3 linked regions of the Homo sapiens genome follow. The protein of the gene in region 2 purifies or fractionates together with the protein of the main gene of each other region. This does not show direct contact. Each region holds a gene or a part of one and is shown on either strand. Other genes may lie near its edges. The genes, in order: IFT46, ZYG11B and TCP10L.

Region 1 (3,652 bases), on a different chromosome or scaffold from region 2:
AATCTCAAAAGTAAAAGCCTGGGAATTTATATTTTTTAGGAAGCAGTCCAGGTAATTTTATGCTAAAGCGAGTTTGAAATTATCAGTCTAGGCATTTTTTCATTGTCAATACTTGTGATACTGCCAGTATTTTGTGAAGGAGATTTTAATTTTGAGGTCTTAAGACCCAGATGTTGGCTGCTGTTATTCTGTGTACCTAGAGAATCACCCTGCTTCTGAAAGAAACATGGCAAGAGGCCCACCTCTCTAGAAACATATAGGACCTTAGAGTTGCACATATGATTTCTTAAAAACCGTTTATGTTGGCCGGGTGTGGTGGCGCACTCCTGTAATCCCAGCACTTTGGGAGGCCGAGGCGGGCGGATCACCTGAGGTCAGGAGTTTGAGACCAGACTGTCCAACATGGCGAAACCCCATCTCTAATAAAAATACAAAAAATTAGCTGGGCGTGGTGGCGGGTGCCTGTAATCCCAGCTACTTGGGAGGCCTCCCAAGGTGCTGGGATTACAGGCACAAGCCACTGTGCCCAGCCTGTTTTTTTTGTTTGTTTTTTTTTTTTGAGACAGAGTCTTGCTCTTTCACCCAGGCTGGAGTGCAGTGATCTTGACTCACTGCAACCTCTGCCTCTTGGGTTCAAGCAATTCTCATGCCTCAGCCTCCCGAGTAGCTGGGGGATCACAGGCCTGCACCAACTCGCCTGGCTAATTTTTGTATTTTTAGTAGAGATGGGGTTTTGCCATGTTGGCCACACTGGTCTTGAACTCCTGACCTCAGGTGATCCTCCTGCCTTGGCCTTCCAAAGTGCTGGGATTACAGGTGTGAGCCACTGTACCCAGCCTGATGGCTGCATTTTAATGGTTTTTGTTTTTGTTTTGAGACAGAGTCATCTCGCTCTGTTGCCTAAGCTGGAGTGTAGTGGCATGACCTCAGCTCGCTGCAACCTCCGCCTCCAGGGTTCAAGCAATTCTCCTGCCTCAGCCTCCTGAGTAGCTGGGATTACAGGCGTGCGCCACCACGCCTGGCTAATTTTTGTATTTTTGGTAGAGATGGGGTTTCACCATGTTGGTCAGGCTGGTCTCGAACTCCTGACCACATGATCCGCCTGCTTCGGTCTCCCAAAGTGCTGGGATTACAGGCATGAGCCACCACCCCGGGCTGACAATATTCTTAAAAGTTCCCTCTGCCAAAACTGCTTCCTATGTGACTAAGGATAATTTTGGCAAATCTTGAATTGAGAAAGAATGCTCTAGAAAGTTCTTATCAGTCATATACTAATAAGGCATAGTCACTGAATAAATTCTGCAACTGTGTTTCATTATCTGCCATGCATATTACAGCTTAGTTAGAATATACTTTATGTATAATAAATTTGTTATTCTTAGAGCAAAATGTGACTAAAAGCAGTTTTTGGTGTCCTGTAACGTGTCACAATTTTGTGTGCCAATAGCTGCTTTACCATAAAAACAAATTAATTTTAAACAACTGGAATCAAACGTGTTAACCTCAGTATAAGCCATACGGTATATAGAAACCAAGTTTTGAAAACCTACTTTTAAAGGGGGCCAATTGGTCATCCTTCAGGTCCTAAGGGAGGGCATGCCACAGGCTCCAGGCCACAGAGGCAAAGACATGGACCCTGTTCCACCTGCCCCTGCAAGTCTCAAGTGCCACCAGACCCCTTCTCATGTACTTGAGAGGGTGGGATGGTACAGAGAGAGCCAGAAGCACAGAAAGGTAGGTTATAATGTCAAGAACAAAAGAGCTGTTTATCTTGAGAGAGAATGTGTAGTCATTTTATGTAATTTATGGGGTAAGGGAAGGGAAATACAGATAGGTCAGATACTCCATGAAGAGAAATATCACTGAACAAAAATGGAAAGTCCATAGTCCCTGGGACTGCTGGTTTGATGGGCACAAGGTTGATTTTGAACTTTCTTCTTTTGATAGTTTCAAGCAGCTTATGCTGGGCAGTCTTGCAAATTAAGTATTAGATTTCCTCTCTATGGTCTTTGTGAGTATTAAGACCCCTAAAATTTCTATTCCCACTTCATATTCCCTGATTTTCTTCCAAAATAACTAGAGTTGCCATCCTCTTCTTTGAAAGTCCATAGCTTTTCGGGCCGAAGCTGTCTAAAGTGTACACAGGGCCCTGAAGATCTAAGTAATATGTACAATAGATAAAATTAGAATTTATACCCCAGCCTCAAGTAGAGAAATGGAATAGGGTTCTAGAAAGTGGAGTCCCCATTTGTAGCTGAGCAGGGGCAGAAGAAGGCTCTCAAGCCCCTTCTGGGAAGTGCCCCCTTCTCTTTCTGGTGACGAGGTGCCAGGTGGTTGGTGTATTGGTTAGAGCAATAGAGAACTGGGCATAGGTACATTTGATTTTTTTACTTGAAGCTTTCTATGCCTGCCCTGCCCTATCACAGGAGAAGAAGAAGACCTCACAGTTGACACCTCAACGGGGCTTTAGTGAAAATGAGGATGACGATGATGATGATGATGATTCATCTGAAACTGATTCTGATTCTGATGATGATGATGAAGAGCATGGAGCCCCTCTGGAAGGGTGAGGAAAGAACACCCAAGCCAAGGGTGCTCTTCAGAATACCTCCTTCAAAACACTGGAGTGGGAGGACGTCAGTTAGAAGTGAAATTCCAGCATCTCTTTTGATCTCCTGTATTTAGGATTTTCAGATGTCTCAGAAACCCAACATAATAATGAGTTTTCCTCCCTTTCTGACTCCACTACCTTATCCAGTCCTATAGTATCACTTTACTATCTGAAACGTTTGTGGGCTTGGGGGTTACATGAGATTTTGCTGAGTAAATCAAAAAGGTGGTGGCCAGGCATGGTGGCTCAAGCCTGTAATCCTAGCATTTTGGGAGGCTGAGGTAGGAGGATTGCTTAAGGCTGGGCGTTCAAGACCAACCTGGGCAACATAGCAAGACCTCGTCTCTACAAAATTTTATTTTTTTTTTGAGACAGAGTCTTGCTCTATCGCCCAGGCTGGAGTGCAGTGGCGTGATCTCGGCTCACTGCAAGCTCCGCCTCCTGGGTTCACGCCATTCTCCTGCCTCAGCCTCCTGAGTAGCTGGGACTACAGGTGCCCGCCACCACGCCCAGCTAATTTTTTTTGTATTTTTAATAGAGACGAGGTTTCACCGTGTTAGCCAGGATGGTCTCGATCTCCTGACCTCGTGATCCGCTCGCCTCGGCCTCCCAAAGTGCTGGGATTACAGGCGTGAGCCACTGCACCCGGCCGCCCAAAAATTTTTTAAAAATTAGCTGAGCATGCTGGTGTGTGCCCATAGTCCCGGCTGCTCGGGAGGCTGAGGCAGGAGAATCACTTGAGCTCAGGAGTTTGAGACTGCAATGAGCTATGATCGGGTCACTGCACTCCAACCTGGTCAACAGAGTGAGACCCTGTCTCAAAAATAAATTAATTAAATTTAAAAAATAATAATAACACTGCTAAAAACACTTCTATAATTTTTTTTTTCTGGTGCAAACTATTTTCATGTCAGATATTTAAATCTCTTTTTTTTTTTGAGACAGAGTCTTGCTTTGTCACCCAGGCTGGAGTGCAGTGGTGCGATCTTGGCTCACTGCAACCTCTGCCTTCCAGGTTCAAGTGATTCTTCTGCCTCAGCC
Region 2 (3,652 bases):
ATATCAAGATGATTCAGATGTTTGAGTTCCCGAACTACATCCAGTATCTGGGTAGTTGTCATTTTTAAACATTTCAAGTGGTGCATGGTTAGAGACTTGAGTCGGTCTTTGCAGGCCAGTAGAGCAGTGATGTCTGTGATTGAGGTGTTAGAAATATCCAAGCTCTCTAATCTTGGCAATGAGGCAACTTCAGCCAGGTCTTCATTGTAAAAGAGAACATTCGTGATGCTTAAAGCTCGAAGGCCAGAAAGCCGGCTGAAGCAGCGCTCGTAAGGATCCTCGAGGGAGAGAGTTAATGAATTCAGCACCAGGCACTGGAGATTCTGCTGGATCCATTTGTTACTGCCAAGCCCACTGATAATGTCTGTAATCGTGATATCAGCATTCACACCTGTGGCATCAAGTTCCACTAACTTGTGGTGGCAGAAAGCTTTCCGGAAAGCAACAGCAGAGATCTTTGCTTTGCGAATGCAGGCTCGCTTTAAGCGCATCTGGTTGCCCCTAAAAATACCCACAGTTCCATCATTCAATAGACCTGTGGAAAAACAAGCAGCGTTTTAAATTCAAAAAACAGTTAAAGAATAGCCAAAATTTCCATCACACTTTACATTTCCAAAGCGCTCCCATGTAACAGTATCTCGTCTGATAATCACAATTCATTTAGGTGAGATTATTATTGTTTACAACTTGTAGATGAGTAAACTGGGGCTCAGAGAGTGGCTTTCCAAGATCACAGGGCTAGCAAGTGGCAGAATCAGGACTGTGGCAGACATTATTGATATCCACTAACATCTAGTTCTTACCTTACCAGACAACTACATTTCCCAGCCCATCCCTGGAGTTAGCTGGAGCCATGTGCCTAGTTCTGGCCAATGCACTATATGTTGAAGCACCTGAGAGCCAGTGCATGATTTTCCATGCTGTCTTTTCCTGCTATGACAAACGAGGAGACTTCACGTTCTAGAGAGTATAGTTATATGAGGAGAAACCCTCCATCAGTTTGGACCCTAGGGTGACCATGAAGCAGAATCCTCTATGGACTTGCAGAGTTTATGTACCACAAGTGAGGTATAAACCTTGTGTTAAGGTATTTGATTTGTTACCAATACATTTCTAGCCTATCCTTTAAATTCACCTTAACATATTATTATACAAACACATATACACATAATATATTTAGCATGCACTTAATGCCTTGTAATTCATTAATAAACCACTAGCCAGATCTCAAACCTTATTAAAGCGATCTAGGCCTGGGAAACATAGCAAGACCCCATCTCTGCAAAATAACTGAAAACGAGTTGGGCACAGTGGTCATGCCTATAGTCCTAGCTACTAGGGAGGCTGAGATGGAAGGATCATTTGAGCCCAGGAGTTTGTGGTTATAGTGAATTATGATTGCACCATTGCACACCAGCCTGGGTGACAGAGTGAGAACCTGTCTCTGAAAAAAAAAAAAAAATATATATATATATATATATAGTAGTTACAGCTTCCCCCCACACTCCCCCTCCTGCAGATGAATGTAAATGAAGTCGACACAGTAACCTCTTGAAGTGCCTTCGAGATCTACCTGTCTACCAATCAACAGTGTCACAAGCATATGATACTCTGGAGGCACATCAACATATCACATATCAACTAAACAACATTGACTGTGAAAGAAGTAACAATCATGCCAAAAACAGGTAGTCTAAGAATAGTATGGGGTGAATGAGCAGTTGAGGACAGGTAAATAAATAGCCTGAAGTCATGAGAGGAACTCTAAGGCGGCATCTTAGCTGGCCCATACTCAAAATGCAGCTAGGCTGCCAGCCAGTCACCCTTAAATTAGAAATGAGGTGTTTTTAAAAGGGAGCACTATTCTCTAATGAGTTTTGCAGACTTAATTACAGTTACACAGTTAAAATCAAGAAAGGCCTGTGCAAAACCTGCCAAAGTGGACAAAAATGACTAATTACATATTAAGAACTCCATTACATTTTAGAGCTGTGCTGCCCAATACATAGTCACTAGCTCCACACAGCTGGAGAGCACTTGGAAAGCAGGTGGTACAAAGTGAGGTCAGCTATAAAGTACAAAATATACACCAGATTGTGAAGACTTAATACAACAAAATAATGTAAAGTATCTCAATTTTTTATATATACTACAGGTTGAAATGATCATTTTTTAATATATTGGGTTAAATAAAAATTATTAAAACTCGTTGCACTTGTTTTTCTTTTTATTTTTTTATGTGGCCACCGGTAAATTTAAAATTACATTTCGATTAAACAATGTAGTTCTAGAGACAGCCTTTCAAATTACCTGCACTCTATTTCAGGAGAGTAAATTTCATGATGGGGTCCATTCAGCAAACAGTTTATTAAACAATTACTATATGTCAAGTACTCTAAATGTTGTAGATACAAAGAAAAATAAGATATGCCCCTATAGTCAAAGGATTCATAATCCCATGGAGTAAAAAAGACACAAACAGCCATAACAAAATGAGATATATGGTATATCAATGTCAAGTATAAAGTATCACAAAAACAAAGAAAAGGAAGTAAACCATCATGAATGAAGATCTGGAAAAGATTTGATGGGAGAGGTGATCTTTGAGTAAGGCCTTTGAAAATGCTGGAAGAATTCAAAGATAGAGAAAGGAGGTTAGTAGGCCAGGTGCAGTGGCTCATGCCTATAATGCCAGCATTTTGGGAGGCCGAGGCGGATGGATCACCTGAGGCCAGGAATTCGAGACCAGCCTGGCCAACGTGGCAAAACCGCGTTTCTACTAAAAATGCAAAAATTAAATGGGTGTGGTGGTGCGCGCCTGTAATACCAGCTACTTGGGAGGTTGAGGCAGAGAATCACTCGAACTTGGGAGGCGGAGGCTGCAGTGAGCCGAGATGGCGCCACTGCACTCCAGCCTGGGCGTCAGAGCAAGACTCCATTTCAAAAAAAAAAAAAAAAGAGGAAGAAGGTTAGGTATATTAAAGCAAGAATATACAACATAAGCAAAGTCTTAAAGATGTGAAAGCATATCACGGGGTTAGGAAATGGCAAGTAGTTCTTTCTATATTGCTTGAACATAAGAAATAGCTAGAGCCATAGATGCAGTGCATTTCTGGGGATATAAGCATGCAAATGGGACAGAAGAAATGAGGCTGAAGGTGAGCTGGAGCTAGATCACTCTGAAAGGTGAAGAGATGAAAGCAGATCAGCTAGGGGGGACCTTGGGACCCATGGAACAACGCAGAAAAGTTCCTGGTTTTTTTCTGGTCATATATCCCAGATCTAAAGTTGAAGGAGCCAGCAGCCTGGAAACACCAATGGGCACAGACAAAAACCTCCCCCAAAATCTGCTCTCTCTAGCCAACGTACCAGGAAAGCAGCAACTAGTAAGACAGGAAACAGCTAGTAGACAGTAACTGCTCTACTTCAGCCAAACACGACAGAAAAAACTGCAGCTCCACCCATGCCAGCAAATGCCAATAGGGGCCTAGATTTCTACCCCTGCCAGGCTGTAATTACTTGCCCCAATCTGCCCACAGGGGAGGTGTTAGAGAAGTCTGAGTAGAGAGCAAGGACTTTCATTCCTGCTGGGTAGTAAGAACTATCCCCCACCACGATGTTAGTAGATACCTTCTGGGGAGCCTGAACTTCA
Region 3 (3,652 bases), on a different chromosome or scaffold from region 2:
TCACCTCTACGAAGCTCCCTGCAGAGGCCATGAAACAGCCTGGGGGTGGGCAGGAAGCCCGGGGGGCAGACTCAGGAGGAAGACAGTGTCAGATTCGGCCCTGAAGGGCCACGCAGACCTCGGCCAAGGATGGGAAGGAGTCCAGGTGCCAGGCAGCCCAGGGCGAGTGGTGCCCACAGGCTTGGGCTGTGCTGTGCATAAGGGCCACACCTGAAGCTCGGCCACACCTGAGGCTCGGCCACCACATAGGCCCCGTTTCTTTACCAAGATAGGTTCCTGCAGAGGTCGTGAAGCTGCTGTGGTCATTTGCTGGCAGCGACGTGAAGATAGAATTCTTTCCTGACTCAACCAGGGGCACTCTCGTCTCCTCCCCGTGAGACCCGCAATGCAGGAAGCACCCACAGCTGCATGGACAGAACTGGGGCCTGGGAAAGAGGCCAGGAAGGTGCCAGATGAGAGGGCGCTCCATCAGGGTGGCAGCAATGCCATGGGCTGGCAAATGGAGAAAGGGGAACAAAGCACCCAAGTGCATCTAGCCCCAGCCACACGCCTTCTGCTGGGAGTGTGCTCAGAGGGAAGTGACCGCTAGGATTCGGAATCTCCAGTCACGGCCCCTGGAGACCGGCATGTGGGCTGTGTGTGGGGTGGAGGGCTGGGGGTGTTGGCAAGTCTCACAGGTGAGGACCCAACGAGGGAATCAGACAAAAAGTGGCCACAAATTAGGCAGCTCCAGGAAGGACATGTCCTTGCCATAGTAAGATGTTCTGCTCACGCGTATCCACGAGAAAGCCCCGCATTTCACGGGGAGCATAGAAACAGGAGTCCCCAACTCTGCTCACCAGCTCCTCCGGCTGCTGCCATCTGCTCCTGCAGCATGGCGGCCTGGGAAGCCTGCACTGGTGATTTTCTGCCACTCAAGTTTTGCAGACTTCGGGAAGATGGATGCATAGCCTGGGGCAATGACAGTCACAGGCCCGCCTTGTCACAAGGTCCCTGGAGCGGGCAATGCCTTGAGCCCAAAGGCTGGGAGCACAAAGCCATCTTCAGCCATCCTCGATTTCCAGCAAGACCCCAGGGCTCACCCAACAGCCCGACACTCCATACTACAAGGTGGGTTAATTTTTTTAAAGACTCTGCAGAAATATACCAACTACAGAGCTCAGGAAAGCAACTGATTTATAAAACCCAATCCAAGTTGTTTGCTTTTATAGCATTAGAGACATGTCTGAAGAACTTCAAGTTTTTATCTATAGAAACATAATTAGTTTAATAAATTACTAGGTCTATTTTGAATAACAAATTGAGTACTTTTATTAGACCTAAGTGGAACTTTATCTGAATCTGAATTTTCCAAGGGGCCAGTGTAGAGTGACACAGGTGTCCGAGGCCACCTTTCCATCTTCAGACACCCCCCCGTCTCTCTGCACAGGGAGTTGGCCTTCCAGTAGGTGTTGCTCTTCTGTCTTGACGTCTCCTGGAAAGATTTTTATCTCTATTTTCCTGTGGTGGTGTTTTCCACGAGCTAATTCTTTCTATCTTTAAACTCATTGGCTGAAAACAAATGTGGGAATATTTTTGCATTAGTAACAATTATATTATTTTTAAATGTTAAGCAACACATCATACCAGCTATCACAGAATGTAGATGATTCTACTCCCCCTTCCTACAGAAGGACACATGAGGTATCCACACTTAGTGTCTCTCATTCCCCATTTTACAGCCCACGCTCTTGTGAAATTTGGGATTCCAATACATGGCTGATATTGTAAAGTCAACAGTGAAATAAAGTGCTTGAAACTCAATTCAAAAATGCATAATAAAAATAATTTTCTACATTTTGCACTATTTAACAATTGATGGTTTCAAGGCGTGGATAAGCCACCCATTCAGTTATCTATTTACTCGTACATTGCCCCGCATGCCTGTGATTAACTCAGGTCAATGATGGAGCATGAGAGAAGTCCGCGTCTCACAGGAGGCTGGGCCTGTGCAGTCCACCCTGGGACTTACGATGTTTTGTACTCATAGGATCTGAAAAGGCTCTTTTCCTACTTGTGACAAATGCTTGGAGTAGATTTCTGATCTTCCTTCAGGGAATAAAGTGTTATCTGCTCAGCAGTTGCTTTGGGAAAGAATGCGAGGGGATAAATCATCTTCAGGAGTTGGGGGCGCCTTCTCCATCCACATCAACCCAGTATCAGTTGCTGGCTGTGGACTCACGAGATTTGCTTCCTGAGTATGAGGGTGACACAAAGCTGGGACAGGAAGAGACACACTGGCTGGGAGAATGTTCTAAAGAGGAGCTAATTTTAACAAAGAAAAATGTGATAGAGACTGCCGAGACCAGCTCGGTCAGGAAGACCCTAACCCAGCAGTGCTAGAGGAATTAAAGACATACGCACGGAAGTATAGCATGTGGAGTGGGAAATCAGGGCACTCACAGCCTTCAGAGCTGAGAGCCGTGAACAGAGATTTACCCACATATTTATTGACAGCAAGCCAGTGATAAATTGTTTCTATAGATTATAGATTAACTAAAAGTATTCCTTATGGGAAACAAAGGGATGGGCCAAAACAAAGGGATGGGCTCTGGCTAGATATCCACAGCAGAAACATGTCCTTAAGGCACAGATCGCTCATGCTACTGTTTGTGGTTTAAGAACGCCTTTAAGCGGTTTTCCACCCTGGGTGGGCCAGGTGTTCCTTGCCATCATTCTGGTAAACCCACAACCTTCAGCGTGGGCATCATGGCCATCACGAACATGTCACAGTGCTGCAGAGATTTTGTTTGTGGCCAGTTTTGGGGCCAGTTTATGGCCAGATCTGGGGGCCTATTCCCAACAAGAGACAAAATAGCATCCTGTACTGTGGCTCCCAAGCTAACAGCGCCACCCCTGTTCAGAGGAGTCCACGCCGACAAGCAGCAGGTGCAAGACCGCAGTGCAGAAGCAGGGAGCACGGGAGGCTGCGAGCCCTCAGACTCACGGGTGGAGACAGTGCCACACACATCACCTCCGCAGCCTGCACCCACGGAAACAAAGCCCCCAAGTCCCCTCGGCCCCAGCCAGACGCTTGCTGCTGTGAGTGTACTCAGAGGGAAGCAGCCGGGAGGACTTGGAATCTGCTCCACAGCAAGAAGTGCTAAGGGTTAGGATCTTGTTTGAAAGGCATGTACCCGTGTCCTTGGAAGAACACAGGACTCCAGGGAGCACCATGCTCACCCAGGGAGGTGAAATTGTGTGGTGAGGAGCTGATGGGATGTGTGTGTTTGGGTACAGAACCTCTGCTTCTCTTTACAGATGATAAGCACAAAGGGTCACCTTTGGAGGAGCTGAATTGTTAGATGACGATCTTTGTCCCAGGAGAGTGGCACTCTGATTCTTGTGGCCAGCGTATTTGGGTATTGTCTCTTCATCAGCTGACAGAGGTGAAATTTTTCCAAAAGCAGGTTCCAATGCCTAAAAGACAAAATGCAGGGAAATTCTTCACATTTTCGAAGGTAAAATAAATTCAAATTTTAATACAATGAAGAATAATTGGAATGTCCTAGAAAAAAATAGGGTACAAGGTAGGGGGACTTGGACTGGGTTTTCCCCCTAATATGTTGATAAGAACAGAAACCCTCACCAAGCGTTTGTGAAGGAACCTTTG

What was found.
Region 1: the proteins of ZYG11B (region 2) and IFT46 purify together in Homo sapiens (affinity purification with western blotting; one study listed by BioGRID). This does not show direct contact.
Region 3: the proteins of ZYG11B (region 2) and TCP10L purify together in Homo sapiens (co-immunoprecipitation; one large-scale study listed by IntAct). This does not show direct contact.

What each region holds. Positions count from the first base shown.
Region 1 is NC_000011.10:118,555,820-118,559,471, reverse strand, and holds part of IFT46 (intraflagellar transport protein 46 homolog), read left to right. Parts: intron 1-1,581; coding exon of another isoform or gene 1,582-1,734; intron 1,735-2,426; coding exon 2,427-2,566; intron 2,567-3,652. UniProt on the Homo sapiens protein: Forms part of a complex involved in intraflagellar transport (IFT), the bi-directional movement of particles required for the assembly, maintenance and functioning of primary cilia. May play a role in chondrocyte maturation and skeletogenesis.
Region 2 is NC_000001.11:52,767,903-52,771,554, reverse strand, and holds part of ZYG11B (protein zyg-11 homolog B), read right to left. Parts: intron 536-3,652; coding exon 1-535. UniProt on the Homo sapiens protein: Serves as substrate adapter subunit in the E3 ubiquitin ligase complex ZYG11B-CUL2-Elongin BC. Acts to target substrates bearing N-terminal degrons for proteasomal degradation with the first four residues of substrates being the key recognition elements.
Region 3 is NC_000021.9:32,575,373-32,579,024, forward strand, and holds part of TCP10L (T-complex protein 10A homolog 1), read right to left. Parts: intron 3,460-3,652; coding exon 3,322-3,459; intron 1,552-3,321; coding exon 1,402-1,551; 3' UTR 1-1,401. Other genes in the region: CFAP298-TCP10L (uncharacterized protein LOC110091775), read right to left, coding at 1,402-1,551, 3,322-3,459. UniProt on the Homo sapiens protein: May be involved in transcriptional regulation. Has in vitro transcription inhibition activity. Acts as a tumor suppressor in hepatocellular carcinoma (HCC) cells.